Homo sapiens: one gene and its partners. The protein of the gene in region 5 interacts with the protein of the main gene of each other region in a biochemical or structural test. Each region holds a gene or a part of one and is shown on either strand. Other genes may lie near its edges. The genes, in order: HTRA1, DLG4, SIPA1L2, MAST2, TTC24, LNX1 and SNTA1.

Region 1 (4,338 bases), on a different chromosome or scaffold from region 5:
AGCAATGCATCAGGCACAGTGCTTTGCGTTTCATATAAGGAGGTCCTTCCATTCTGCAATGCCCTAAGAGCTACGTATGTATCTGCTATTACTTCTCTTATCTTACTGATGGGGAAACTGAGACTTAGAGATGAAGTCACCCAAGAAACACCACACATCCAGAAAATGGCAATCCGACTTCAGAAGCCCAGCCCTTAAGCTGAGCATCATACTATCTACCACGAGTACCTTGAGATCAGGGGCCACCAGCCCTTACCTCTGAGTCCCCATACCTGATACACTTCTGAGCACACAGTAGGTGTTAAATAAATGCTCTGAATGAATTTAGAAATGGAACTCTCAGCACTGACTCCAAAAACTGAACTCTGCATCTTTCCGGCAGTGATGGACATGCCTCTTCGCAGCCACTTACTTCTGTCCTGAGGCGTGTTGTCCTGGCTAATGTCCCCCTGTGGTTCTAGGCACACGTCACCAAGTAGTGCTGAATCACTGTAACTTCCATGCCACTTCCAGGAGCCTTTTGGAAACACATTCAGAATGGCTACACTTCTCGGTTTCTCTATTAATAGGATTTTTCTCTTTCTTCTTTTTTTTTTAACGGCAGAGAAGGTGGAGAAGGAAAAGATGAAATGACACAAGGGTATCTCACTTCAGATGACCCAAAGGCCTTGGAGCCCCAGGGAAGGAGCAAGGGGTATGAGTCTCGTGGAAGCTCATCTCTTGGAGATGAACATGTCACCCCTGTGGTCTCCCGGGGACTTCAGCAGCCAGTACAAAGCTGAAACACAAAGCAACCAGGCTCAAGATGGATCACATCTATTCGATGCCAGCCTTGGCTTTAACCATCAATAATTTAGGAAAAAGAAGTAGCTCATAAGGAAGCCTCCCCAGGCTTTAAATTAGGAATGAGGTGACCACAACCTCCTCAAAGACTTGTTTTCTTAGAAAAATCCCAGACCATTCTAGTTAAAAGGAGCCTCAGAGATCAACTGGCCCAATCCCCTCACTGCCGAGGCTCCGAGAGGTCGAGGGAGCTGTTACCTGGTCAGGTAACACCCCAGGAAGGGCCAGAGCCGCTTGCCCTCAGCCCCTCCGCCCCAGTTGGCCTTCCAAGGAACCCTCACCCACTGCCAAGCTTACTTCTTCTTCAAATTAAGCCTGACCAGAGCTATTTATTCACTTGAAATATAAGCTCATGGAAAGTCTGATTTCTGAATCCAAGGCATGAAACTCATCCAGGATCACACAGCTCCAAACGGAGAATCCAGCCCCAAAGCGGAGGCCATCAGGCTTCTGACCACAGTTAGCTCATGGTGCCCGCCACCATCACTTACTCAATGCAGTTATTTTAAGTTCCAATGCAACCCATTTACAGCTCTCTCAGTGGAATGAAGTAACTCAAACACTTGGTTTTTGAGCTTGTTAACTTCCTAATTTTATGAAGCCTTAATATTTTAACTCTTTAGCAAAACCAACAGAGCAATAAAAGAAGGCAGCCGACCAGAGCAGGCAGAGACTCATAAACTGCTCAAAAGACCTCCAAGTTTCCAAGTTTCAGGTGACTAAAAGCTGGAGACTCACAAATGTTTCCACCCACCCTGCCCTAAGATGAAGCTCAGGTCCCTGGCACACTTGTTTTTTAACTGACAAAAGGTGTATTTGAATTGCCAATAGTGAAAATGACTCTCGAGCAAACTGCCCACTTTAACAATGGAAAAATACAACCCCAGGGAAGCAGTGATTGTATTTTCCCCCATTGTATTGAATATAAGTTACCTGTGGGCAGTGACTTTGTTTTATTCAACCCTGTCTCCCCAGAGCTCAGTACAGGGTCAGCACTCAGCTAGCAATGATTGCTTGTTTGAGGTTCCCACGAAAGAGTCACCTAAATAAAGTACATTTTGGCACGGGTGCAGTGGCTCACTCCTGTAATCCCAGCACTTTGGGAGGCCAAAGCGGGCGGATCACAAGGTCAGGAGATGGAGACCATCCTGGCTAACACGGTGAAACCCCGTCTCTACCAAAAAATACAAAAAAATTAGCTGGGCGTGGTGGCGGGTGCCTGTAGTCCCAGCTACTCTGGAGGCTAAGGCAGGAGAATGGCATGAACCCGGGAGGTGGAGCTTGCAGTGAGCCGAGATCGCGCCACTGCACTCCAGCGTAGGCGACAGAACGAGACACTGTCTCAAAAAAAAAAGTAAATTTTACAAACATTCCAGGGCTCCAAGAAGTAAAGCAACCATCTAAGCCCTTGGTTCTTCACCAGGTATGTACATACAGCCTCTGCCTTTAGAGGCTCTGGGGTGAGACCAGGAGCAGGCGATCCTAAAAACCTCCAGGGGTGGAGTTTCTGGGCACCCCTGCAGCTTGCAGACCTCCAAGCTTGTCTGGGCTGCTGCATGGAGTAGGGTGGGCTTTCCTGGAGGATGTACTAGCAGGAGAAATGGATGAGGCTTCTGCTGTTTGGGAAGTCTGTTTCAGGTCTCGTTCCTGGCTTCTTGTCCATGTTTTAGCAGAGGTCCGGAATCCCGGCTGGTCTTTTGGGACATGGGGGAATCTGGAAGGGCTTTCTCTCTTCAAGAGCAGTTTGTCTGGATCTCTGGCTTGGAAACAGCCTTCCTACAGTCCCTCGGCTCTTTTTGCTTTTCTTTAGTGAGGGCTGCACTGACGGCAACTGGAGGCAACCTTGTCTTCAGGCTCCTGAGCCTGCAGAGTGAAGGCTGTGATCTGTCCTGTTCCATCTCTAAGCCACAGCCATCTGGAGCCCTGTTTATTTCAGCTATTAGCTGGGGCTTAGCTGGGGTTGGTTTAAAATCTCTGTTGCTCTGTCAACAGCACAGCATGGTGGTTATGAACGAGGCTCTCCATCCAGTTGTGTGGGACCACCAGTCCTGAGCAAGGTACTTCTCTGTGACTTAGCTGCCCAGCTGTAACCCAGGGAAGACTACAGCACTCACTCATAGGACTGTCCGGAGGATCAAATGAATTAGTATGCACCCGGCATAGAATAAGCACAACATATATGTTAGCCCTCATTATTAGTACCCTATTAGTATTTCAATTCCTTTCTTTTTTGTAATCATCTGACCAGTACAGCTGGAGATGACAGATCTTTGTTCTCTAGCTGAATTGTATACTTTCCCATCCAAACCCTGCCAGTGCATTGACTTCTGAAATAGATGATTTGCCTTCATTTCCAGAGCGGTGAGCAGAGATGTTCTCTGAGGTCTATTCAATAAACAGCTTACAGATGAAAGTGCTTTCCTTTGAATGGTGACATGTTCCTCTATCCAAAGATCTACTGTGACCCAAAGTGCTAGTCACCTCCCTGGGGACCCCTGATCTGATGACATTTCTACCTCTCATCCCCTGGCATGCTCTGCCCCAGACAAAGCCACCTTATAATATTTGAAATCGCAGCACCCGCTCCTGCCTCGAGAGCTCTGTCTCCAGATCCGTGTATGACTTGCTCCAACTCCAGGCCTCTAGTCAAGTGGCACCCCTAGAAAAGGCTCATGTCCATGGCAGCTAAAGTGACTCTCCCGCCAATCTTCCAGCCAGAGCAGGCAGCCAATTCACCTCATTTAACAGTGACGTCAAGTGACCTGCCCGTGGGCACCAGCTGTTGAGTCCTGGAGCCTGGCTTGGACTGAATGAAGTCTGCTGGCTCCCAGGCGCCTGTCCTCGGAAACACCTCCGAAAAGTCAAGGGTGGAGTGTGAGATCCAGAGAGGGGGCGCAGCAAAGCAGTGCCTTCCACTAAGGAAAAACAGAATGGCTGTGTATCGCAAGCACCTCCCGTTTGTCTTCATTCATTCATTTATTCATTCACTAATCCACTCGTACCAAGTACCTCCGATGTGCCAGACAGACAAACATGCAAACGGTGTCAGACACCCTACAGAGCTCAATAAATATTTGCAAAAGAAGGAGGGAGGGATAAGAAAAGCATTGTACCCACTCTGTCTCTCCCTCCTTTCAAAGCCACCATGCTTATCCCTCTGTGGCTGTCCCCTCACTGGTACACCGGGGGCCCGCTGTGAGCCCGATGGCCAATGGGGGACCTGTTTTCCTCCACACAGGGACTCAGCCAACTCCAAAACTTGTTAAGCAACTTGCCTCACTAGCAATAAATTAGGCGGCTCGCATGGTGCCAGCAACTCAGGACCCCGTGCGATGAGACCACAAACAGCGAGACCAGTAACAGCTGGCTTGTTTTGGACAAAAACATGCTTTTTCAATGTTGTCGCCTCACACCCAGATTATTGCAGTAGTCTAAACTCTCCACCCTGGATGCATTCCGCACTCCACTGCTAGGTCAGCCCTACACTACACTAGG
Region 2 (4,338 bases), on a different chromosome or scaffold from region 5:
GAAGACAGGGCAGAGATGAAAGTGCCTGGAGGGAAACAGCACCCGCCACCCAACCTTCTCCCCAGGGTGCCAGAAGAGCCAAAGTTAGGTGGAAGGGAAGATATTCTGCCAGAGATGCCAGGGTGGGGTGGTAAGGGGATATCAGATCACAGTGACATCAGGGGTCAGGAATTTATAGGTGACATCAGAGGCTGGTTGTCCTAGGGGATAAAGGATTTGAACGTTATATGTCCTCAGTATGCCAGGGATGGGGAAGTCAAAGGGAGCATTAATATTACGCTTTGGGGGTTTTCTCTGGGTTCCTGTGTCACTCGAATCTCTTAATCCATAAAATTCTTCTCCCTCTTTTTTCCCCCCACCTCTCTGCCATCCATTCGTTGAAAAAACTAGGTCATTTGTCTAAAAGAATTTCCCACATTCTATGAGGGAAATTCTTTTGTTTTTTTGGGGTTTTTTTGAGAAGGAGTCTCAGGCTGGAGTGCAGTGCCGTGATCTTGGCTCACTGCAGCCTCTGCCTCCCAGGTTCAAGTGATTCTCATGCCTCAGCCTCCCAAGTAGCTGGGATTACAGGCGCGCGCCACCATGCCCAGCTAATTTTTGTATTTTTAGTAGAGACAGTGTTTCACCATGTTGTCCAGGCTGGTCTGGAACTTCTGAACTCAAATGATCCACCCGCTTATGCCTCCCAAAGTGCTGGGATTACAGGCATGAGCCACCTTGACCAGCCTATGAGGGAAATTCTAACAGGGAAATTACTGCTTACCCTCCTGTGGTTTGTTTAGCCTATGCCTCTGCCCCTGTATCTCCTGTAAACTGGCAGTTCATTCTGGAGGCTTGATCAGTTTCAAGTTCAATTCAGAGTTTTTTTTAGTAACTCCTGTATACTTCATAGGTAGCGCTACGTTCTTCCTACAGCATCACCACAGGATGCAATAATGCCTGGTTGTCTTTCTGTCAGGTAAGATTAATGGTAGGTTCAGGGTCATCAGCCCAGTCCATCCATTATCTAGCGCCCCATCAGCCTTTCAGGTAAGTTTTAGCCACACTGACAATCACCGCCTGGTTCTGATAAGTATCAAGGACTGCAAAATGGTGGTGATTGTCATTTACTAGTGGGAATTCTTCTGTAAAAAAGAAAAATCTCGACCAGGCACGATGGCTCATGCCTGTAATCCCAGCACTGTGGAGGCCAAGGCAGGCAGATCACTTGAGGTTAAGACTTTGAGACCAGCCTGGCTAACATGGTGAAATCCCGTCTCTACTAAAAATACAAAAATAGGCTGGGCGTGCTGGCTTACGTCTATAATCTCAGGTACTCGGGAGGCTGAGGCAGGAGAATTGCTTGAACCCAGGAGGCGGAGGTTGCAAGGAGCCAAGATTGTGCCACTGCACTCCAGCCTGGGTGACAGAGCGAGACTCCCTCTCAAAAAAAAAAAAAAAAAATTCCTCCAGCTTGGGTAACATGGTGAAACCCTATCTCTACAAAAGACAAAAGTTGAAAGTTAGCTGAGGCTGGGCGCAGTGGCTCACGCCTGTAATCCCAGCACTTTGGGAGGCCGAGGCAGGTGGATCACAAGGTCAGGAGTTCAAAACCAGCCTGGCCAAGATGGTGAAATCCCATCTGTACTAAAAGTACAAAAATTAGCTGGGCGCAGTGGCAGGGCCCTGTAATCCCAGCTACTCGGGAGGCTGAGGCAGGAGAATTGCTGGAACCCGGGCGGCAGAGGTTGCAGTGAGCCAAGATCGTGCCACTGCACTCCAGCCTGGGTGACAGAGTGAGACTCCATCTCAAAAAAAAAAAAAAAAAAGTTAGCTGAGCATGATGGCACTCGCCTGTAATCCCAGCTACTCGGGAGGCTGAGGTGGGAGGATCGCTTGAGCCCAGGAGGCGGAAGTTGCAGTGAGCCAAGATCACACCACTGCACTCCAGCCTGCTGGGTGACAAAGCAAGACCTGCCTCCAACAAAAAAAAAGCAAAAACAAAAACAAAAAAACAGCCCTATGTCAACCTGTTGGTTACTCTCTGAGGTAGCTGGTACATGAAAGGGAGGATAAATGCATGCCTCTCTCTGCATGCCTCTTTCCATTCATTCACCAATTTCAGAATGAATGAGATTGCCTAGCATCCTCCAATTTTTTTTTTAATTATTTATTTTTTTGGGATGGAGTTTCACTCTTGTCGCCCAGGCTGGTGTGCAGTGGTGCGATCTTGGCTCACTGCAACCTCTGCCTCCCAGGTTCAAGGGATTCTCCCACCTCAACCTCTCCAGCAGCTAGGATTACAGGCACCCACCACCACGCCTGGCTAATTTTTTGTATTTTTAGTAGAGACGGGGTTTCGCCATGTTGGGCGGGCTGGTCTCGAACTCCTGACCTCAGGTGATCCGCCTGCCTCAACCTCCCAAAGTGCTGAGATTACAGGCATGAGCCACCGCGCCCAGCCAAAATATTTTTAAGTATTATTATGATCTTAAAGATTTTAATATATTTAACGAGTTTTCACTGGACAGTAGAAGCACCTTCAGTTTGGATCCTGTGTCTTTGCTGAGACCCTATTAGTCCTGGATACCTTCCTTGCTCTCTAGTATGAAAGAAGTTAGAAGCTCATCTTACAGATTTATTGCCAAAGATTTTAAATTGGCTGGGCACGGTGGCTCAGGCCTGTAATCCCAGCACTTTGGGAGGCCGAGGTGGGGGGATCATGAGGTCAGGAGATCAAGACCATCCTGGCTATCACGGTGAAACCCCATCTCTACTAAAATATACAAAAAAATTAGCCAGGCGTGGTGGTGGGCACCTGTAGTCCCAGCTACTCGGGAGGCTGAGGCAGGAGAATGGCATGAACCCGGGAGGCGGAGCTTGCAGTGAGCCAAGATCGTGCCACTGCACTCCAGCCTGGGCGACAGAGCGAGACTCCGTCTCAAAAAAAAAAAAAAAAGAAAAGAAAAAAAAAGATTTTAAATTGACCCTTCTTCCAAGGAGCCCAGGTTCCTTTTGTTAGGTTATGGTATTTAGGAATAGTACCACATGATTTTAATATGGTTTTACAGTATTATTTCATATTTTGTAGGGGCTGCCACACCTCATTATTTGTTTCCAAAATGTCTTAGCTTTTCCACACAAATTTTTCCAGTCAAACTTTAGTGTCAACCTTCCAAGTTCCCAGTAGGGAAACAACATTAAAATTCTGATTAGGATTGAATGGAATGTAGATTAATTTGGAGCCGGTTGAGATCTTTAGCATATTAAGTTTTTCCATCCAGAGACACGGTGTGACTCCTCACCCCTTCCAGTCTTGTTTTATGTCTTTCAGTAAAGTTTTGTCATTTTCTTCATACAAATCTTACATTTCTTGTCAAGTTTCTATTTCTAATAATTTTATAGAAATTTTTTCTATGGCAAAAGGGGGCTTTTTATTCACTACATTTTCTTATTGCTGGGAAGTTACTAATTCCTGTTATTTATCTTACAAATAGCCACATTCCTTTTTTTTTTTGTCGTTTTTTGAGACAGAGTTTCACTCTTGTTGCCCAGGCTGGAGTGCAATGGCGCGATCTCAGCTCGCCGCAACCTCCGCCTCCCAGGTTCAAGCAATTCTCCTGCCTCAGCCTCCTGAGTAGCTGGGATTGCAGGCATGCACCACCATGCCCGGCTAATTTTGTATTTTTAGTAGAGATGGGGTTTCTCCATGTTGGTTAGGCTGGTCTCGAACTCCCAACCTCAGGTGACTCACCCATCTCGGCCTCCCAAAGTGCTGGGATTACAGGCATGAGCCACCGGCGCGCCCAGCCTGTTTTGGTTTTTTTTTTTTTTTTTTTTTGAGATGGAGTCTCGCTCTATCGCCCAGGCTGGAGTGCAGTGGTGAGATCTTGGCTCACTGCAAGCTCCGCCTCCCAGGGTCAAGGAATTCTCCTGTCTCAGCCTCAGGATTAGCTGGTATTACAGGCGCTCGCCACCACACCCAGCTAATTTTTTTTTGTATTTTTAGTAGAGACAGCGTTTCTCCATGTTGGCCAGGCTGTTCTCAAACTCCTGACCTCAGGTGATCCGCCCGCCTTGGCCTCCCAAAGTGTTGGGATTACAGGCATGAGCCACCTCGCCCAGCCAACAAATAGCCACATTCTTAACTTTGCATATTTTTCCAGTTAATTCACTTAGATTTTGATCTAGATGCACAGTAGTATAATTTACAAATAGAGATAACTTTTGTTTTTCCCTTCCAAATGTAACTATTCTCCTTGTCTTGTTACACTGTCTGAAATCTCTAAAGCAGTGATTCTCAACCACCATAATTTCGCTGGGGCAATTCTGTCATAACATTTTTTAATTGTTATGACT
Region 3 (4,338 bases), about 76 Mb from region 5:
AAGGGTTCCTTGATACCTGAGCTTAGTAAACACTTGTCCACCTTGGGGATCTTTTTACCTGAGGCAAAGGAGAAGCGGGTTATTATTTTGAAATTAGCAGTCTATTTCTGAAAGTAAGGAAATACTAGCTACCCTGAAAAACCAGTTGTTTGGTAATTGAAACTGGTTTAAAAGCACTGTGTTTGGGCATCGAAACTAGTTTAAAGGGATTGTGTTTCCTGCATACTTTGCAAAGAACTATGTGTTTATGTGGATACAGCCCCTTGCCCCCAACCATAATTGGTAAATGCAGCGTTATTTTTTGAGATTGAGGAAGGCATTGAGTTTTTGAACTTCTGATCAATTTATGGTGGTAGTTGAGGATTACAAATCCTTTTAAAGACACACTGAATTTGAAGAAAATTTAGACTAGGGTATTGTTAATTGAAAAGCTGCTTTTTTTTTTCTTTCTGTTTTGAACTTCAATGAAATACAAAGTACAGTCCTAGAGAATAGTGAACCATGTTCTAGGTTTTCTACTTCTGTTAATGTGCCTAATTCATTTGCAGAGTGAGAGTAGAAAAAGCTTTAGGCACAGACAGGAACCTTGAGCTTCCTGCCTCTACCACCTGTCACAAATGAATTTGGATGAAACTATTTTCATGATCCCTTTCAGCACCAAAATTTGGGGTTTCTTTAAGGTTTAAGACGAACGCATTAGAGTAATGAAAATGCCTGTCTGACTGGGATGTTTATATTTTTCATGATTATGTCATTTCTTTGCCTTGGCCTATAGTAAGTTTGTATGTGAATGCTTTGCATGAGGGTCATAGCTACTTGGTTTACCTTGAAATCAATGATTCAGAAATTGCTTTTTGTGTTCCAGTTGCATGTAGCTGTGACTCCTTTTAAAAGTGTGGTAACAATGTGGTAGGAATTTAAAAGCTTCCCAACTTTAGACATAGATTATTTTGATCCTTTCTGAACTGGATTCATAAACTTTGGTTCCAAAGAACAGCAGCTGTAGAAGGGAGCCAGATCTTGACTCACTGTTGAGGTTCTGCTTCTTGAGAGATTTCATATTTAGTGCAACCCAATTCCTTGGTTCGTTCTTCTCCCCCAGTACTAGATAGCCAAGTTGGGTGGTAGGAAGGAAGAAAATATGCAGCAAGTCGAGTCTAGTTGTCATGCTCCTTTGGGCCAGAAAGGACCTTAAAGATTGTCTCGTCATGTTGTTCCTATACCTTTTGTTTTCGTCTACCTGTAAAATGAAAAAAAAAAAAAAAAGCAAATATTAGGGATTGTCAGATATGTCAGCATTTAATGTTGCTACATAAGTGTGTTTAAAATTGACAACAGCAGTTACTACCTATTGTCAATGCATTTCGTCAAAATCCTTTTGATGTACCAAAAAAGAGAAAAGGTGGGGAAAGGGGGAAGAATATGTATGCTGTCAGACTTAAAGGAGAGTTCTTCCTATCCAGAGAGGAGCTGTGTTAAAATTACCCCACTCGTGGATTTATATCTATCCCCACACAGACACTTTTTTCTTTTGCATGGGTCAATGAAAAATTCACTAAGGACCGGGGTTTAGAAATCACTGAGTAGCTCAACTAACCCTTCTTTGATATTTGGATCCTTTTATATAATCTCTGTAAGTGGTCTTCCGGTAATACCTGAACATTGCAAGTAACGGGTGGTGATTTCCACCTTTTAATGGTTTTGAGTACTAGAAAGTTTTTTGGCCTATAGAATTGAAATCTGATTCTGCTTGTTTATTCAAATTCTACTGCCTTGGTGGCCTACAGAACAAATCCTTCAGTCTCTGTCAGAGTTGGGCTCTTGGTGTAACGTGACCCGTGAACATGACCTGTGTAGAGTACAGCAGGAGTGTCTTGTCATAGGTTGCATGTTGCTTGCACTGATGTAGTCCAAGTTTGCATTTACTTTTCTGGTGGCCAGACTCAACGAGTTTCCTTTTCGCTAAAACCTGCCGAGCCGTTAATCACATGCTGCCATTGAACCTCGTCTTTCCATCTTGCGCTGATGTCATTGCAAAACCTAACATTTATTGCGCTGTGGTTTTGCTTTATTTTAGCTGATTCTTTCCATCATGCTTTTTAGAATTTGATTATATTATTTGGCACCTTTACCTGTCCTCCCAAAGAAATGCTGTCTGTACATTATTAGATCAGACTCTTTTATATCTTTACTTAAGCCGGTGATGAAATTGTTAAACTGGCTGAACAACACGAAGTGTGTCTCTGGAAGCTTCCCTCGAGGCTTACAAGGAGTCACACTCTCGGTTATAGTTAACTACTAATGCTCTTCATATCTTATAACTAGCCCATATAGCTCCACCTTTCCACATGGATATCCTGAAAGAGTGTGTCAAACCTCCTTTGCTGGTTCTACTGACCAAGTTATGCTGAGTAATAATGAGTTCATTTTCAGTGTGTCCCTAGTAACGAGCACTCTCTTCTGCATATGATTAAGAAAATGTGTTAAATGACTGACTGGATTGAGACACTAGGGTCACACTGTGATCTGTGACCTCCGGAGGCCTTAGGAACTGCAGTGCTTCTAGGAAAAATCAGAATATTGTTGGACTTTCTTCAGCTTATTTTTTGGTTTGGTATTCTCTTGTGTTGAATTGCTTTCAGATAGTGGGGAAGAACACCACAGTCTCTTCCGGTTTTGTTTTAATTGGTTGATATACTTCTCTTCCTATTTTACTAATAAACATTTAGCCAAAAGGGGTGTCTTGAACTCTGCCCATTAGATTACTCCATATTTTTCACTTCTACATATTTGCTTAATCTTCTGAGAAATATCCCCATTTAGTTGAGTTCCTCAAGAAATCAGAACAGTCCGAAGTAAGCTATCTGGTAGTTTATTCAAACTCTTAAGTAAAAATATCTAGGTAAAGAGCCAGTGTTAAAAATTGTTATTGTGGAAAGTAAGAACTCCTGGGTGAATAAAAGATTATGTCTGCTGAGATGAACTATTGTGTGGAGTTTTAAAAGAAAGTTCTGGTTAATGCTTAAGACATAGTGTCCTGTGAAGTCAGCATAACTACTTTCACTGTCTTCTGGAGGTGGTTTTGATAACACATTTGGTTCCTTGTTGAACAGTGGGTATTCACATTGTTCAGGAATAGCTTTGGGATACTGTCCTCTCCGTATTGAAGTTTCTAATAAGTAATTTTAGGAATTATAGTTTTGATTCTTTGTACAGGGCAAATGCTACCTGTTTCAGGTGTTTAAATGGCCTAATGCAAGAAACAGTGGTTTCTTTTTAGCAGGTTCTCAAGGTTCTCAAACTTTTTTCAACGTGCATCCCATCTATACACAATTGTCTAAGTGTTCATGTATGTATGCGTATACATGTATACATATCTGCATGCACGTTTGTGTGTGTGTATATGTATAATATATCTGTATGTATAAACATATACTTTACTGTGCTAAGATATTATGGACATAAAACAAATGTACATTTTAAGAAGATTAATATTAAAAATAAATAGATGTAGAAGTATTTTCTCTGCATCTCAAGGGCATTTGTATCTTTGAAATGTGTGGCCCCTGTGTAGAGACCACTGTTGTACTATCACTGGTTAGAGTTTATAGCAGTTGAGAAATGGAATTTCTAGGGAGCCTGTAGGGTCTTGTGAGGCAAGCGGAAGACAAACTCCACTCTTGATGGGCCTTATATTTACTGTGTATTTATTCTTTTTCCCGAAGACATTTCTGACTTTGGCCTGTTTTCTTCCAGAATTGCTTGTGGGTCTTGGTTTGGGGTTTCATTTATTGAGGGGTAGGAGGTTAATGTAATGGCGATGCTATTCTCCTTAGAAAGTTTCTAATTGAACTCAGCTGTTTTTTTGTTTTGTTTTGTTTTGTTTTTTGAGACAGAGTCTCGCACTGTCACCCAGGCTGGAGTGCAGTGGTGCGATCTTGGCTCACTGCAAGCTCTGCCTCCTGGGTTGCTGCCATTCTCCTGCCTCAGCCTCCCAAGAAGCTGGGACTACAGGTGCCTGCCACCATGCCTAGCTAATTTTTTTTTGTATTTTTAGTAGAGACGGAGTTTCACCATGTTAGCCAGGATGGTCTCGATCTCCTGACCTCGTGATCTGCCCGCCTCGGCCTCCCAGAGTGCTGGGATTACAGGCGTGAGCCACTGTGCCTGTTCTGAACTCAGCTGTTTAAGAAGCATCATACTATCACACTCAGACGAAAGCATTCCCAGGATCAGGGTATGTTAAAAGTTCAGATTGACAGCCTAGCTCTGTCTGTATGTGATTGGCCAGAACTGTAGCACACAGCCACCCGTAGTGCAAGGAATGCCTGGCTTCCC
Region 4 (4,338 bases), about 110 Mb from region 5:
TTAAATCTCAATGAACTGTACCATCAAAGGGATATATTTTATTGTATGAAAATTATACCTTAATAATATTTTTTAAGAAAAAAGTAAATGCGGCCATGTCACATTCTTACCTAAACTTTCTGGTGTCTCCAAGTGGCCGTAAGGGTAATGAAAAACTCCAGAGCCGAGAACCCGACACCCTCCATGACCCTGTCACAGCCTACCTTCCAGGCTTACCCCTCAGCACTTCTTCAAACCCACCCTGTGCCCCACTGAATGCTCCTTCCCATGCTCCCGATCTGGGAAACTTAGACTCATCCTTCAGTTTGCTGAATAAGCCTCACGTCCCCCAGGGAGCATTCACTGAATGTTCCTTCCAGGGAAGACTAAAGCACTTCCTTTTCCAGGTTCCCGTTACGCTGTGTACTGACCTCAACTGCAACACTTCTTGCAGTATTGTAATTACTATTTACATGTCCTCATGCCTCATGCTTCCCAACTCCACTGTAGAGGAAACATCCCAAGATCAGAGACTGTGCTTTATTCATGTCTGTATCTCCAGTGTCTAGCAGGAAGTAGGTACTCAGTCAAGTATTGCTGAAGATAAAATGAAGGACTCAACTTGTACAAACTAAACTGGGCTATGCTCCTGACGCTTCTCACCCCCAAGACCCCCACTGATGTGAGCCCTGCTCATGTGGGGGTGGCCTAGACTAATAATTCTCCCTGCCGCATCCCCTCAGGACCATACATTTGTCCTCACAAAAACCTGTTTAGTCCCCCAATGGTGGCAAATCATATTTAAATAAGGACCTAAGCAACAGAAATGGCAGTGGTTACCACCACAGTTTTGCTGTCATCAGGATACTTCCTCTATAGTCCTCCTCTAAATCTGCCCACCTGACTTTCCTAGAGTCCACTCACCAGGCATTCCAGGAGACGTGCTGGGCGGGCAATGATAATCATCAGCTTTTTCACCAGCTGCATCACAAAAGCCACTTCTGAGCTCTCTGAGCGCTCATGAGCCTATAGAGAAAAGAAGCGTTGCTTAATCTATTGGCCCAGTGTGGCTGGGCTAAGCAGGACCAGACAGGGCAGAGCTGACTCCAGGGAGAAACAATTCGGTAGCATAGAGAGCTCCGCAAAGCAAGGAACTCAGAGAAGGCTGGCTGGCTGTGAGAGGGAGCGAGTTGCTCATAGGGAACCATTTCTGCTTTAGAACACTACATGACACCAAGAAATGCCACACAGACATACAGCTGTACCTGCTCCTCCATCCAACAAGCCTCACTTACCCTCCAGACCCTAGCTCAAGGGGCAGCTCTCAATGGTGCCTTCACTGATGTTCACTTTCCACCCTAGACTGTAAGGAGTAGAAAGACCTCAAAGCTGAGGAGTCATATGACCAGAAAGTACTTCAGAAGGATCACTCTGGCTGCAGTGTAGAGAGTACACTAAAGAGGGCAAGGCTAAATGCAGGAAAACCCATTAGCAGGCAACTCTAATAATTCAGATGAAAAAGGCATAGGTCAAGGCAGAAGAATGCAGACAAGGGGATAGACGTGGGTTACTACAGAAGCAGATAAGGGGTGAAAGAAGCACGACAGAAGGCAACTACAACTTCAATTTTAGGAAAATTACAATGAATAAGTGAAATAGTAACTATAAGAAGCCATTTAGGTGATAGGTAAAGAATGTACTGCATTTGGTTTTAGAGAAAGAACAGCTAGGCAGAAAAGATAAGCTCAGTTCTGGGCGTGCAGTTTCAGGCACCTATATGAGAGTCTCTTGGGTATCTGCTTGGCCGATGGGCCTTTCTCTTTTTTCCTGAGAACTGCTCTGGTTTCTAGGAGCCACATTTGTACTGTGTGTCTGTACCTTCCCTCCCACCTCTAATAGCTGACCAGAGAGGATCACTTTCCTAGGAATTTAAAAAAGGATAGAAAGACAACTGTTAACGTCAGTGTGGCAGAACCGTTTAAGAACTGTGAAAAGAGATGCATACCTACCATGGAAATAGAGGAAAAGATGCATACAGAAAAAGGAAGAATGAAGACTTCCTGAGCTTCCTGGAGCTTCTGGTTTCTAGTTCTGGTTCCTTCTTAAGGCCTGGTTATATCCCTCGCTTCAATTCTCTAAGACCTACTCCTTTTACTCTTATAATGTTTCCCTTTACTGTTTAAACTATTCTGAATCAGTTTCTATTACGTGCAACCAAAGAATAAGAACCAATATAGGGAAGTCAAAGTGGAGGAGTCCAGCAGGCAGCTGGGTGCACTGATCTGAAGCTCAGGAGAACAGTAAGAGTGGCAGCCACATGTGGGAGTCCTCAGCGTAGAGATGACAACTGAAGACATGGGAGCAGGTGGCAAGACATCAGAGAGAGAGTGGAGGAAAGAGAAAGGGGAGACCAGGCATGCCGGATGGTGCCCTGTGACACACCAGTAGGAAGAGGTGGGCAGCAAAGGAACTTGTGAAGAGGCAGCAAGAGTGGTGAGAACAGTGAATTGACAACTGGGGAAGGAAGTTTAGGAAGTATTCACTGTGCTCCACCGAGAGGTGGCAGAAGATGGGAACTGAAAGTGGCCACAGGATTTGGCAATTGGCCAGTGAGTTCCTTGGTGAATTTTGCCTGAACAGTTTTGGTAGACTGGTGGGAAGGGAAACTGGAAGGCAGAAGATTGAGTAGTAAATAGGATACAAGGAAAGAAAAACAGTAAATGCTATTGTGAATAGTGCCGCAATAAACATACGTGTGCATGTGTCTTTATAGCAGCATGATTTATAGTCCTTTGGGTATATACCCAGTAATGGGATGGCTGGGTCAAATGGTATTTCTAGTTCTAGATCCCTGAGGAATCGCCCCACTGACTTCCACAATGGTTGAACTAGTTTACAGTCCCACCAACAGTATAAAAGTGTTCCTATTTCTCCACATCCTCTCCAGCACCTGTTGTTTCCTGACTTTTTAATGATTGCCATTCTAACTGGTGTGAGATGGTATCTCATTGTGGTTTTGATTTGCATTTCTCTGATGGCCAGTGATGGTGAGCATTTTTTCATGTGTTTTTTGGCTGCATAAATGTCTTCTTTTGAGAAGTGTCTGCTCATGTCCTTCGCCCACTTTTTGATGGGGTTGTTTTTTTCTTGTAAATTTGAGTTCATTGTAGATTCTGGATATTAGCCCTTTGTCAGATGAGTAGGTTGCGAAAATTTTCTCCCATTTTGTAGGTTGCCTGTTCCCTCTGATGGTAGTTTCTTTTGCTGTGCAGCAGCTCTTTCGTTTAATTAGATCCCATTTGTCAATTTTGGCTTTTGTTGCCATTGCTTTTGGTGCTTTAGACATGAAGTCCTTGCCCAAGCCTATGTCCTGAATGGTAATGCCTAGGTTTTCTTCTAGGGTTTTTATGGTTTTAGGTCTAACGTTTAAGTCTTTAATCCATCTTGAATTAATTTTTATATAAGGTGTACGGAAGGGATCCAATTTCAGCTTTCTACATATGGCTAGCCAGTTTTCTCAGCACCATTTATTAAATAGGGAATCCTTTCCCCATTGCTTATTTTTCTCAGGTTTGTCAAAGATCAGATAGTTGTAGATATGCAGCGTTATTTCTGAGGGCTCTGTTCTGTTCCATTGATCTATATCTCTGTTTTGGTACCAGTACCATGCTGTTTTGGTTACTGTAGCCTTGTAGTATAGTTTGAAGTCAGGTAGCATGATGCCTCCAGCTTTGTTCTTTTGGCTTAGGATTGACTTGGCGATGCGGGCTCTTTTTTGGTTCCATATGAACTTTAAAGTAGTTTTTTCTAATTCTGTGAAGAAAGTCATTGGTAGCTTGATGGGGATGGTGTTGAATCTATAAAAATTACCTTGGGCAGTATGGCCATTTTCACGATATTGATTCTTCCTACCCATGAGCATGGAATGCTCTTCCATTTGTTTGTATCCTATTTCACTGAGCAGTGGTTTGTAGTTCTCCTTGAAGAGGTCCTTCACGTCCCTTGTAAGTTGGATTCCTAGGTATTTTATTCTCTTTGAAGCAATTGTGAATGGGAGTTCACTCATGATTTGGCTGTTTGTCTGTTATTGGTGTATAAGAATGCTTGTGATTTTTGTACATTGATTTTGTATCCTGAGACTTTGCTGAAGTTGCTTATCAGCTTAAGGAGATTTTGGGCTGAGACAATGGGGTTTTCTAGATATACAATCATGTCATCTGGAAACAGGGACAATTTGACTTCCTCTTTTCCTAATTGAATACCCTTTATTTCCTTCTCCTGCCTCATTGCCCTGGCCAGAACTTCCAAAACTATGTTGAATAGGAGTGGTCAGAGAGGGCATCCCTGTCTTGTGGCAGT
Region 5 (4,070 bases):
GGCCATCCACCCTTAAGCCTTGGGCCCCTTTTGGAACCCCTTCTTAGTGTCTTAGTCCCAGTCCCATTCCCCGGCCCCAGGCACCCACCGTGTAGGTCAGCAGCCTTCTGGTGAAACTCCCGAGCTTCCTGATAGTTGCCGAGGGCATTGTGGGCCATCCCGAGGTTTCTTAGCACTGTGGCCTGCTCTCCTGGCACCCAGCACAGGGGCAGGGCCTGCAGGAAGGCCTCCACGGCCAGCGGGAACAGCTGGAGCTGGGAGTAGCCCAGGCCTAGATCGTTATAGAGGTGCCCTAGAGGGAATAGCCAGGGTCACTGGTAGCCAGACCAGATATAAATGAGGCTGGTACAGCCCCTATCGACTCCTCCAGGGTTCCCCAAACCCAGCCCTCTGAGTATCATCAGGCTCTGTGTCTCCCCAGATCCCATGCCTTCCCTGCCCGAAGGTCTCACCCAGCAGTCGCCTCTCAGTGCTCCTCTCGGCAAGCCTCCGGCTTTTCTCCAGCACCTGCACAACTTCCCCCACCCGATGCCGCCCACTCTTCAGCATACATCCTGCCGCAGCCCCCAGTGCCAGGGCTGCGGCCCGCAGCTGTCTCTCTTGAGCATAGGCCTGGCTTGCTTCCTGCAGGCAGTGGGCTGCTAGCTCAGGCTGTCCCAGAGCCTGGTAGCAGGCTCCCATTTTTGCCCAGGCTTCTCCCTGGTCACCCTGTGGCTGGTAGTGGCCCAGGGCCCTGTGGTACCAGGCCAAAGCTTGAGGCAGCTCGCCGAGGGCATGGTAGGCCAAAGCCACATTGAAACATTGGTCGCCGTGTCGCCTGCCCTGTGCCTTCTCTTCAGGGTGGGCTCGCAGGAGTAGCTCAAGGCCTCTGGCTGGGTCCCCAGTCTCCACATAGGCAGCCCCCAGGTTGAAGGCGCAGGCCTGGAGCACAGGGGTATCCCTGGTTTGTGGGGCCTTGGAGGCCAGAAGGAAGGCCCTCTGGAAGTTGTTCAAGGCTTCATGGTTCTGGCCAGCCTGAAGGGCCCCATGGCCAGCCCTGGTGAGGGCTTGGATGCTGGCTTCTTGCCGCAGCCACTTTCTTTTCTTCTTTTTCTTATTGGAGCTTGAGGGCTCAGGTTCTGGCCTCCGGGGCACATCCTCAGGGTTGGGGGAAGACATAGGGCTGACAAAGGGGAACAGAGGGCTCAGTATGTCAGCCTTGGCTTCCTCTAGATAGCAGGACCCCCTTAGGGCAATTCAGCTCTACCCCTGCCCTAGCATGACCCTCAGGGTTTCAAGGATTGCTCTCTGATCTCTCACTTTGTTTCTTCTGTCCCATTGGGCACCATATCCACTCTCACTCTAACTTCCTGACTAATTCTTAGTCCTCCTTCAAGACTCAAGTCAAGTAACAGCTTACTTCAGAACGCACCTTCTTCTCAACCAACTGGGTACTCCTGTGGTCCCATAGCACTTGATGCCTATGTCTTTTATAGCATTTATCACACTGGGTCAGAGCTGATGACTTTATTGTCTTCCCCCCACTACTAGATTTGGAGCAACTTGCAGGGTCTGGCACACAGTAGATTCTCAATAAATGTTTATGAAAGGAGATGAAAAAGTTCTGGAGATGGATAGTGGTGTTAATTGCACAATAATGTGAGTGTACTTAATGCCACTGAACTGCACATTTTAAAATGGTTAAAATGGTAAATTGTATGTTATGTATATGTTACCACCATACGAGTGTTTTTGGATTGAACAAATAGGCCAGGTGCGATGGCTCACACCAGTAATCCCAGCATTTTGGGAGGCTGAGGTGGGCAGATCACGAGGTCAAGAGATAGAGACCAGCCTGGCCAACATGGTAAAACCCCGTCTCTACTAAAAATACAAAAATTAGCCGGGCGTGGTGGCGGGCGCCTGTAATCCCAGCTACTCGGGAGGCTGAGGCAGGAGAATTGCTTGAACCCGGGAGGTGGAGGTTGCAGTGAGCTGAGATCGCGCCATTGCACTCCAGCCTGGGTGACAGAGAAACTCTGTCTCAAAAAAAGCTGCAAATAAATAGATGAAGGAACCGCATATGCAGGGCCTCTCCTCCATAACTTCCTTCACACTGTGCCTCCACAGACACCCCCCTCACTCATCATCTAGGTACTCCTGCTATCTAATCTCAAGACGTAGTTCAGGTCAGTTCAACAAGCACTCAGTGAGCCCCTGCTATGTGCTAGGAACCACACTAGGCACTGGGGACCCTAGGGTGAGGAGGCTCCTGAATTGGCAAGGAGCGAACCTCCAGGAGAGAAGGATTTTCTGAAAAGGAGTGTGGTGTGGGACAGAACATGCATTTACTGCCCCTTCCCTAGCTCAAGGGGAAGCTCTCTCTCCATTTCTTCCGCTTTCTGTCTGCTGGCTGGTTCTAGGCCCCCAGCCTCCTGCTCTGGTCTCCAGAGCCCTCTTAAACCTGAATACAAGCATCTCAGCAGCTTGTATATCCTGTTTGTATTTTTCCCCTTGAAGGGCAAAAGCTTTTTATGAACTCTCCTCCCAGGAGATGGGAAAAAGAGTGGAAAAGACCCAGGCCCTGGGCTCTTGACCCCTCCCATTTTATCCTTTTTTTCCCCTTTTTTAGGAGGGGCAGGCAGAGGAAAAGCAGTCTCTTTTAAAAGAAATTCCCCCTGCTTCTAAGAACACCCAGAAATCCTGCCTTTTCAAGGCCTTCCACTCCAGGGCATTCCTGACCACCCCCATCCAGTGTGGGGATCCCCACTGCAGGACACCTTACCTCCTTGGGTCTTCTCCGCAGCTGGCTCTCTGGAATGGCCCCTCTGGCTTGGGTTACCTCCCAAGCTGTTAGCTCAAAGCCCTAGAGGTTACTAGACAACCAGGTACCACCCTCCAGTCGTAGGGAATTATTTGAGTGACAGCTCTGAAGCCGTATCTTAGTGCTAAACCTCGGTAGTGCTGCAGACACACCCCCTCAAGTCCCTCACTTCAAGAAATGAATCAAGGCATCAGAGGGGCGCTTACTAGTTACACCCTCAGAAATCATCTACTTCATCCCCTCATTTCACAGAGGAAGGGACCAAGCCTCAGACAGCAGATGTGACTTAACTAAGGTCACAGAGCAGTCACGTAGCTGGGGTTAGACTCTATGTTTTTTTTTGAGATGGAGTCTCACTCTATCACCCAGGCTGGAGTGCAGTGGCGCCATCTCGGCTCACTGCAACCGCTGCCTCCCGGGCTCAAGTGATCAAGTGATTCTCCTGCCTCAGCCTCCTGAGGAGCTGGGATTACAGGTGCACGCCACCACAACCAGCTCATTTTTGTATTTTTAGTAGAGAAGGGGTTTCACCATGTTGGCCAGGCTGGTCTCGAACTCCTGACCTCAAGTGATCTGGCTGCCTTGGCCTCCCAAAGTGCTAGGATTACAGGTGTGAGCCACTGCACCCCGTCTTTTTTTTTTTTTTTTTTTTTTGAGACGGAATCTTGCTGTGTTGCCTAGGCTGGAGTGCAGTGGTGCAATCTCAGCTCACTGCAACCTCTGCCTCCTGGGTTCAAGCCGTTCTCCTGCCTCAGCCTCCTGAGTAGCTGGGATTACAGGTGCCTGCCATCACACCTGGCTAATTTTTGTATTTTTGTATAGACTGGGTTTCCCCATGTTGGCCAGGCTGGTCTTGAACTCCTGACCTCAGGTGATCTGCCTGCCTCTGCCTCCCAAAGTGCTAGGATTACAGGCATGAGCCACCACGCCCAGCCAACTCTAGGTTTTTTGATTCAAGGTGAGTAGCCTAGGGTCCCTTCCACTACACTGTGTGATTGCAAGTTGTTTTTTTTGTTTGTGTGTTTGTTTTTGAGACAGAATCTTGCTCTGTCATCTAGGCTGAAGTGCCTAGATGATCACAGCTCACTGCAGCCTCTACCTCCTGGGCTCAAGCGATCTTCCCACCTCAGCCTCCCAAGTAGCTGGGACCACAGGCATGTGCCACCACACCTGGCTAATAATAATAATAATAATAATTATTATTATTATTATTATTATTATTATTATTATTATAGAGATGGGGTTTTGATATGTTGCCCAGGATGGT
Region 6 (4,338 bases), on a different chromosome or scaffold from region 5:
TCCCAAAGTGTTTACTTGAGATTTTTAAAACAAGGTCCTAGTTCCTGAGAGTGAGTGAGTTGTGTGCTCTGGGAATGAAGATGCAGAAAAGGCATTGTCTTAGTCCATTCATGCTGCTATAACAAAATACACTATCCTAGGTGGCTTGTAAACAACATAAATTTATTTCTCACAGTTCTGGAGGTCAAGAAGTCAAAGATCAAGACACTAGCCGGTTTGGTGTCTGGGGATGGCTACTTCCTCACAGATGGCACCATCTCACTTTGTCCTTACATGGTAGAGGGGCAAACAAGATTCCTCCAGCCCCTTTCATAAGGGCTGTAATCCCCTTAGGAGGGACCTGCCTTCATGACCTAATCACCTCCCAAAGGCCCTACCTCCAAATGCTGCCGTGTTGTGGGTTAGGATTTTAACATCTGAATTTTGGGGAAACATGTTCAGACCATAGCAGGCAGGAAGAAAATATCTCCACCACCATTGTCTGAGTCAATGCAAAAGAGCATGGAATTTCAATGCCCTCATTTCATGACCTTTCTCCCCTAGCCCAATAACCATCCCTGTATAGGAAGAAAGCTGGCAGGTCACTGCCCCTTCTCTGTTGTGGTGGTGAGTGGGCAAGGGATGGGATGAAGAGAGGAACCACCAAACCTTACTCCTCTCTCTTCCATCTCCCTTGTCCCTAAACCAGGTCTGTCTTGGGAATCTTTCTAATCAAATCTTCCATATCTCATTCATTTTCAACTTTTACTAAAGTGATAAATGAGGTCAGCTGGCTACTTCAGCCTAGGCCACCAGAGAGCTCTATTTATGTGAGTTTCATAGGTCTAAGATTTAGTCTGAATGACCTGCAGCTCTGAAATCTCAATGGTCAGCAATTCTGGAATAATGGCCCATACTACCTGACACATGTGAAACTAATCTGTGGCAGAAAGACAATTTGTAAATGTATCATTGTATTTGTCTGCTCTCATGCTGCTATTAAAGACATACCCGAGAATGGGTCATTTATAAAGGTTTAATGAACTCACAGTTTTACATGGCTGGGGAGGCCTCTCAGTCATGGTGGAAGATGAAGGAAGAGCAAAGGGATGTCTTACATGGTGGCAGACAAGAGAGCCTGTGCAGGGGAACTCCCATTTATAAAATCATCAGATCTCGTGAGACTTACTATCTCGAGAACAGCATGGGAAAGACCCACCCCCATGAATCAGTTACCTCCTGCCAGGTCCCTCCGATGACATATGGGAATTATGGGAGCTACAATTCAAGGTGAAGTTTGACTGGGGACACAGTCAAACCATATCGATGATGTGGAGTGGACCTTTCCAATAAGTACTATATTTGCTATTCTGAATGCCTGTCCAAATATCAATGTACATAGCAGAGAGAATTAGCAGAGTAACTGGTAGTTCCATAAAAAATAAAGAAATCAAGGCAAATTACTCTTTTGCAGTTTTTTAAACATTTTGTATTTCAATAGCTTTAGGAATACACGTGGTTTTTGGTTACATGGATGCATTGTATGGTGGTGAAGTCTGAGATTTTAGTGCACCTGTCACCTGAATAGTGTACACTGTACCAAATAGGCAGTTTTTCATCCCTCACCCCACTCACCCTCCCCTTTTCTGAGTCTCCAAAGTCCATTATATTACTCTGCCTCTGCATCTCCAGAGCTAAGCTCCCACTTACAAGTGAGAACATGCAGTATTTGATTTTCCATTCCTCTGTTACTTCACTTAAAATAATGGCCTCCAGTTCCATCCAAGTTGCTGCAAAAGACATTTTTTCATTCTTTTTTGTGGCTGAGTAGTATTCCATGGTATATACATACCACATTTTCTTTATCTACCTATCAGTTGATGGGCACTTAAGTTGATTCCATGTCTTTGTGATTGTGAATTGAAGGTAAAGGATTTTGATTAGGTTGTACATATTAATGTATGAAGTCATCCCCATATTTCTAAAGTGCTAAACCTTTCCTATGCCCAAATATTTGCAAGTGTCAGGCTCAGGATTTCTCTTCCTGCAGTGGCAAGTTACTGCCATTAACTCCATCTCTTTTTCTTTACTGTGTACCATTGATCTTAGATCTTTGCTTTGGGCTGCTACTTTACACAGTGCACCTAATTCTATCTGGGAAGAACTTAGGGCATGGCTTGTGTGTGGTACAACCATTAATTAAAAATGAATTAGCAATATCTGATGATGCCTTTTCAAAGATTGGAAGGAACCAAACCTTCCCTAGTTTTCCCTTGGAGCAACATTTACTACCTGGTTTAAGGATAAAGGAAAGAGCTCTCATGCTCTTGGCAAATTACAAGATGGATAGTAACAAAAAAACCCAACAAACTAGAAATCATGTTTTGCCATAAAAAAATGGTATAATCAAAGTGATGTTTTTGTAAGCTCCTGGTGCTGAATGCAGTGGATGGAAACTGACAGTGGCTAATGCCTGTGTCTTCTTGCCCAGGCCAGTGAAAGACGTGTTCACCTCGTCGTGTCCCGCCAGGTTCGGCAGCGGAGCCCTGACATCTTTCAGGAAGCCGGCTGGAACAGCAATGGCAGCTGGTCCCCAGGGCCAGGGGAGAGGAGCAACACTCCCAAGGTGAGGCCTCTAGGGCAGGTCGCCTGCTCCTGCAAGGGGCTATTTCTTGGGAAGGCTGCTTGTTTTAACATGTCTAAGTGTCATCTCTGGACTTTTTTACTTAAAGAAACACTTTGACTTGTAAAACTAAAAGCCCAAAGTCCCATATTTAAGACTTGGAGAGATAACAGGTGTCTCCCATCCAAGCAGGAGAGAAGAAGGTGCAGGAAAGTTTTGAAACCTGATCATGCAGACCTCATACAGGGACCTGATTTCTAGCCTAAGCCAAATAAATGGCATGTTTTTACCAAGAGTCATCTTGTTTGAGGACTTATTTTATTCACTTTGAAATGAAGCAAGCAGTTTGCCTGGTTTCTGGCTTTTGAATTTTTCAGTCTGCCTAGAAATGAGTGATTTCCCCGCTACTTTTAGTTTTTGTTTGTGTTTGCCGAAGGGCCCAGGAAGATAATTTAAACACTTGAAGCTCATGTAACATTAGGGAGTGGTGGGGATTGGGGCAAACCAGAGAGCACATGTTATATGGCATTCAAATCCAGAAAACTCTAAAACACTGTGGATCTGTGGGTGGAATTCATTCTTCAGGCCACCAGTTTGCAGCCTCACTTTAAATGAAGTGACTCAGCCCAATTTGTACTTCTCTCTGTGGCTTCTATTAGAGGCAATGCCTTAACCTCTTCATTTGGATGCGTGTTTAAGCAACACAAACCTTGTTTAGTCCAAATTAAGAGTCCTATAGCTTTGGCTTGGCATCCTGTTGTGATGCTGATGAGCTTCTTTCAGTCATCTCTCCTGAGTTCTGGTTTCATGGCATCACTTGTAACTAAAAAAAATTCTTAAAGGTAGCTCATTCTTCTTGCAACAGAAAGTAGGGAATGCCCTTTTCTTTCTACGTCAATCTATATGTTGGTTGGAATAGCTTACAAATTGAGTTTTTGAGTAATATATAGAGAAACAATATTCAAATTTTTTATTTTGGAACATCTCTGCTTTATACTATGTTAATTACATAGCCTACAAGGTTATACACCCCTCCAGGTTCTCCAGCCAGCCAAGCCTCATAAATCCATAAATTACCTGTTTCTCTACAATAAGGAGTCTAGACAGACCAGATATATCCTGCTAAAACATTTTATGGATAAGGACTCCGTGATGTCTTTTTGCTAGTAAATGCTTAATGTTTAAATTTAACTGATCATCTTTATTAATGAAAAACTAGTTTATTAGCTTAATTAATTAATTGAAGTTTTTATCCAATTAACTAATTTTAGTTGAATTAACTAGAATACGTCATATTCTAAGTCATCAAATTATGGAGAAGGTAGCCTCCATCTGCACTGTGGTTTTAGAATTCCTTCCACCTCCTCATCATGAAAGAGCTGGGAGGATCTGGTCACATTTCTGCTGCAACCCTCTGTCATATGTCTTAATTCCTGGAAACGTGCAAACTGACTTAGTCGGAATTGTAATTATTTCCGTTTTAACTTATATTCTATCTGACTTCTGAAATATCCTCACAAAAAAGTAACATATTTAAAAAAACTGAGACATATATGGCTCTTTGATTATTTCAGTTTTTATATTCTTACTAAAATCTTGTTTGGTTTAGGAAACCAGGTAGCTTTTTAAAAATAAGAGCTTAAACAATTCAAAGAAATACCAAAGAAGACAAAGCAGGATTTGTGGGACAGAAAACTTTTAGCCAATTAAAAAAGTTAAGGAATGCTAGGCATCAA
Region 7 (4,338 bases), on a different chromosome or scaffold from region 5:
AGTTGATCTGCCTGCCTCAGCCTCCCAAAGTGCTAGGATTACAGGCATGAGTCACCGCGCCCAGCCAGCATTATTTTTAATGCATGACAGGCTCACTGTTGTCACAGTCCTGCCAGCCACACTGGAATGGGAGGAGGGAAGGGTGTTTTCCTTGAGGCTGTCCCTCCCTCTTCCCCCAGGCCTGGCCTTCAAGGGCCCAGGCTGGCCCTGGCTTGAGGTCTGCACACACAACGGGCCTCTCGAAGCAGCGGACAGACACTTGTTGGCTGCCAACTTGGGCCCAGACTGTGGTCACAAACACACCCCTCTGGCTGAGAACAGGATCAGGACATTTCTGCAAACCCCTGACCTAGTAGAAGAAATGTTCTAGGAGGCAGGTTGGGGTTGCTGAGGCTCAGCTGAGCCCCCAACTTAGGCCAGGGAAGTAAGGCTCTAGCTGACACCTGGAGTTTGCTGGTAATGCTTGTTCTCCCAGGACATCCTCAGGGGATTCACTATCCACTGAGCTGGAAAAATATCCAGTTGCCTTGCCAAGTTCACATCCAAAGGACAGGCCATCCTTCCATGGCCCCTTGGAGGCGTCCTCAGTAATGGGATGTGAGTGGGGAAATGTTGAACAATGTGGTCAGTGATTCAACTCCGGGGAAACCTAGGCCCAGAGAGGGTCCCAGGAACCCTGGCTGCTCCAGACTGGTGCAACTGCCAGGCCCAGACCTTCTCCACTCCCCAAAGTCTCAAGGACCAGCCACAGCCCAGCATCCTCCTATCCTTCAGACCTCTCTGATCACTCTTGCCATTCAGAGATTCCTGACTCCAGTGCCTTCCACCACTCCTCCTCCCCTCTTTGTGCTATCTTGAGTGGAATGACCTCCTTCCATGAGATCTTGGGCCAGGAGAATAGGTCGAAAAAGACTTCAACTAAGGAAAAGTGGGGAAAAACATGAAGGCCACATTCTTCTTTCTCTTACCCAGGCCATAGGCAGGGTTCACCAAGGAATGATCTCGTCCTGTGAAACATCTCAGAGAATATAAGAGCAGGGGCCCCTCAGTCCTGGGATGATACACATGTTACTTCTCTACTGCATCTGTAGTAGACATTGCTAATCAATTCCAGCTCCTTTCTGCTGAGCCCAGACAAAGCCTCCCAATCCTTCCAAATATGGAACTCACAGAACCACCAGTGGAGCTGACGCTTACACTCTTTTTTTTTTTTTTCCTACAGAGATGAAATCTCACTGTGTTGCCCAAGCTGGTCTCGAACTCCTGGGCTCAAGTGATCTGCCCACCTAAGCCTCCCAAAGTGTTGGGATTACAGGCGTAAGCCACCACGCCTGCCTGGAGCTGCCACTCTAAATAAAAGCTATTGATCACCTCTGATCTAGCCTAACTTCAATAGGAAAACTGAGTCCCCTAGAAGGCAAGGGTCTTACCCAAGGCCAAACAGAGATTTATTGCAGAGCAGACAGGATTTCAGGCACCAGCTTTTTTTTTTTTTTTTTTTTTTTTTTTGAGATGGATTCTTGCTCTTGTCGCCCAGGCTGGAGTGCAGCGGCACAATCACGGCTCACTGCAACCTCCGCCTCCCGTGTTCAAGATTTTCCTACCTCAGCCTCCTGAGTAGCTGGGATTACAGGCACGCGCCACCATGGCTCAGCTAATTTTTGTATTTTTAGTAGAGACGGGGTTTCGCCATGTTGGCCAGGCTGGTCTCAAACTCCTGGCCTCAGGTGATCCACCCGCCTCAGCCTCCCAAAGTGCTGGGATTACAGGCGTGAGTCACAGCACCTAGCCACCGGCTTTTAAAGAGTTTCTGTAGGCCAGGCATGGTGGCTCACGTCTGTAATCCCAGCACTTTGGGAGGCCCAGGCAGGCAGATCACTGAGGCCGGGAGTTCGAGACCAGCCTGGCCAACATGGCAAAACCCTGTCTCTACTAAAAATACAAAAATTAACCAGGCCGTGGTGGTGCACACCTGTAATTCCAGCTACAGAACTGAGGCAGAGAATCGCTTGAACCTGGGAGAAGGAGGTTGCAGTAAGCTGAGATCGCACTACTGCACTCCAGCCTGGGCAACAGAGTGAGACCCTGCCTCAAGAAAAAAACACAGTTTGTGTAGAGGAGATAGTGTTTATGTTTTGTCTACCCTACCACATGGTGAGCTCCTTCAGGAGAGGCCCTGGGTGTAGTTTAGCTTCTGACCTTAATATACACAGCAGGCACACAGTAGATGTCCATGAATGTCTCTTGGCTTAGTGAGGAGGAATGCATGACATGAGTTAGAGGGAAGGCTTGAGTATTCACTCCTAAAGTCAGAAGATGCTTCAAGGTCACACATTTACAGATACTACCTTCTCAAAACGACATACATGGGAACCCAGATAGATACATTTTTAATCTAAAGATGAGGAGGTGGGCCGGGCGCGGTGGCTCACGCGTGTAATCCCAGCACTTTGGGAGGCCGGGGCGGGCAGATCACAAGGTCAGGAGATCGAGACCATCCTGGCTAACACGGTGAAACCACATCTCTACTAATAATACAAAAAATTAGCCAGGCGTGGTGGCGGGCACCTGTAGTCCCAGCTACTTGGGAGGCTGAGCAGGAGAATGGCGTGAACCCGGGAGGCGGAGCTTGCAGTGAGCCGAGATCCCGCCACTGCACTCCAACCTGGGTGACAGAGCAAGACTCTGTCTCAAAAATATAAATAAATAAAAATAAAAAATAAAGATGAGGAGGTGAGGGGACCTCCGTGTGAATGTGGATTTGAATTGTGTCTATAGCAGAAATTTTACCATAGACTAAACTTTCAAACAACAGAAGCTAAAAGAGCTTTCAAGTCAACTAAAATATGACATTTCGATGAATGTCAGTGGTTTCAAACCGCATTGCTGACTATAAATATCAAAGTAATGAGGCATGTGGGGAAAGTCTCTTATATCCATATCATTTATGTGGCATTCTATTATTTAACTTTGCCATTAAAATATGATTGATACACTTAAGCTTCTAAGGATCAACACTCTAGAGTCAGCTTTTTTTAAGTATCAAAAAAATGCATCTAGACTGGGCACTGTGGCCTGCAATCCCAGCACTTTGGGAGACTTAGGTGGGAGGATCCCTTAAGCCCAGGAGTTGGAGACCAGCCCAGGCAACATGGTGAAACCCTGTCTCTACAAAAAATTGGCTAGGTGTGGTGGCTCACGCCTGTAATCCCAGCACTTTGGGAGGCCGAGGCAGGCAGATCACGAGGTCAGGAGTTCGAGACCAGCCTGGCCAATATGGTGAAACCCTGTCTCTACTAAAAATACAAAAAAAAAATTAGCCAGGCGTGGTAGTGCGCACCTGTAGTCCCAGCTACTCGGAAGGCTAAGGCAGAAGAATCGCTTGAACCTGGAAGGCGGAGGATGCAGTGAGCCAAGATCGCGCCACTGCTCCAGCCTGGGCGACAGAGTAAGACTCCATCTCAAAAAAAAAAAAAAAAAAAAGCTAGGCGCAGGGGCTCACACCTGTAATCCCAGCACTTTTGGAGGCTGAGGCAGGTGGATCACAAGCTCAGGAGTTTGAGACCAGCCTGGCCAATATGGTGAAACCTCATCTCTACTAAAAATAAAAAAATTAGCCGGGCATGGTGGTGGGTGCCTGTAATCCCAGCTACTCAGGAGGCGGAGGCAGAAGAATTGCTTGAACCCGGGAGACGGAGGTTGCAGTGAGCCGAGATCATGCCACTGCACTCCAGCCTGGGCAACAGAGTGAGACTCCATCTCAGAAAAAAAAAAAAATTAACCAGGTGTGGTGGCATGCATCTGTAGTCCCAGCCACTCAGGAGGTTGAGGTGGGAGGATTGTTTGAGCCCCGGGGGGTGGAGGGTGCATTGAGCCAAGATCATACTACTGTACTCCAGCCTGGGTGATAGAGCAAGACCCTGTCTCGAAAAAAAAAAAAAACAAGAAAAAAAAATGCATCCATGGCATTTAAATAGATATACCTAAAATATAAAATAAAACTTTACATTTTATTTTCTTTATTTAAATTTTATTTTATTTTATATCTGGGTCAACCAAGGACCGAGAACCTATTTGCTTCTGTGGCCTCTTGGACACTCCTTTAGGGAAACCAAGGCAACCCACCAGGATTTGGGCCTGGGACTCAACTCAGCAGCTTCTCTGGCCGTGTTATTCTCCATCAGCCCCCGCCACCTCCCTGTGCCTGTTCTGGGCCATAAGCCAGAGACACATTCCTCAGGCCCCCACGGGGCTTCCAGAGCTGACAGAGTTTGAGGAAAGGGCTGAGCAAAGCAGAAACCTCTTGAGAGACATGGCACAAGATGGTCATGGGACAAC

What was found.
Region 1: the proteins of TTC24 (region 5) and HTRA1 interact in a test that uses a peptide from one of them, tested with the Homo sapiens proteins (one large-scale study listed by IntAct).
Region 2: the proteins of TTC24 (region 5) and DLG4 interact in a test that uses a peptide from one of them, tested with the Homo sapiens proteins (one large-scale study listed by IntAct).
Region 3: the proteins of TTC24 (region 5) and SIPA1L2 interact in a test that uses a peptide from one of them, tested with the Homo sapiens proteins (one large-scale study listed by IntAct).
Region 4: the proteins of TTC24 (region 5) and MAST2 interact in a test that uses a peptide from one of them, tested with the Homo sapiens proteins (one large-scale study listed by IntAct).
Region 6: the proteins of TTC24 (region 5) and LNX1 interact in a test that uses a peptide from one of them, tested with the Homo sapiens proteins (one large-scale study listed by IntAct).
Region 7: the proteins of TTC24 (region 5) and SNTA1 interact in a test that uses a peptide from one of them, tested with the Homo sapiens proteins (one large-scale study listed by IntAct).

The regions. Positions count from the first base shown.
Region 1 is NC_000010.11:122,464,033-122,468,370, reverse strand, and holds part of HTRA1 (serine protease HTRA1 precursor), read right to left. Parts: intron 1-4,338. UniProt on the Homo sapiens protein: Serine protease with a variety of targets, including extracellular matrix proteins such as fibronectin. HTRA1-generated fibronectin fragments further induce synovial cells to up-regulate MMP1 and MMP3 production.
Region 2 is NC_000017.11:7,197,058-7,201,395, forward strand, and holds part of DLG4 (disks large homolog 4), read right to left. Parts: intron 1-4,338. UniProt on the Homo sapiens protein: Postsynaptic scaffolding protein that plays a critical role in synaptogenesis and synaptic plasticity by providing a platform for the postsynaptic clustering of crucial synaptic proteins.
Region 3 is NC_000001.11:232,623,159-232,627,496, reverse strand, and holds part of SIPA1L2 (signal-induced proliferation-associated 1-like protein 2), read left to right. Parts: intron 1-4,338.
Region 4 is NC_000001.11:46,016,263-46,020,600, reverse strand, and holds part of MAST2 (microtubule-associated serine/threonine-protein kinase 2), read right to left. Parts: intron 1,006-4,338; coding exon 904-1,005; intron 1-903. UniProt on the Homo sapiens protein: Appears to link the dystrophin/utrophin network with microtubule filaments via the syntrophins. Phosphorylation of DMD or UTRN may modulate their affinities for associated proteins. Functions in a multi-protein complex in spermatid maturation.
Region 5 is NC_000001.11:156,578,453-156,582,522, reverse strand, and holds the start of TTC24 (tetratricopeptide repeat protein 24), read right to left. Parts: upstream 2,801-4,070; 5' UTR 2,765-2,800; intron 1,163-2,764; 5' UTR 1,159-1,162; coding exon 453-1,158; intron 293-452; coding exon 89-292; intron 1-88.
Region 6 is NC_000004.12:53,479,987-53,484,324, reverse strand, and holds part of LNX1 (E3 ubiquitin-protein ligase LNX), read left to right. Parts: intron 1-2,470; coding exon 2,471-2,605; intron 2,606-4,338.
Region 7 is NC_000020.11:33,433,501-33,437,838, forward strand, and holds part of SNTA1 (alpha-1-syntrophin), read right to left. Parts: intron 1-4,338. UniProt on the Homo sapiens protein: Adapter protein that binds to and probably organizes the subcellular localization of a variety of membrane proteins. May link various receptors to the actin cytoskeleton and the extracellular matrix via the dystrophin glycoprotein complex.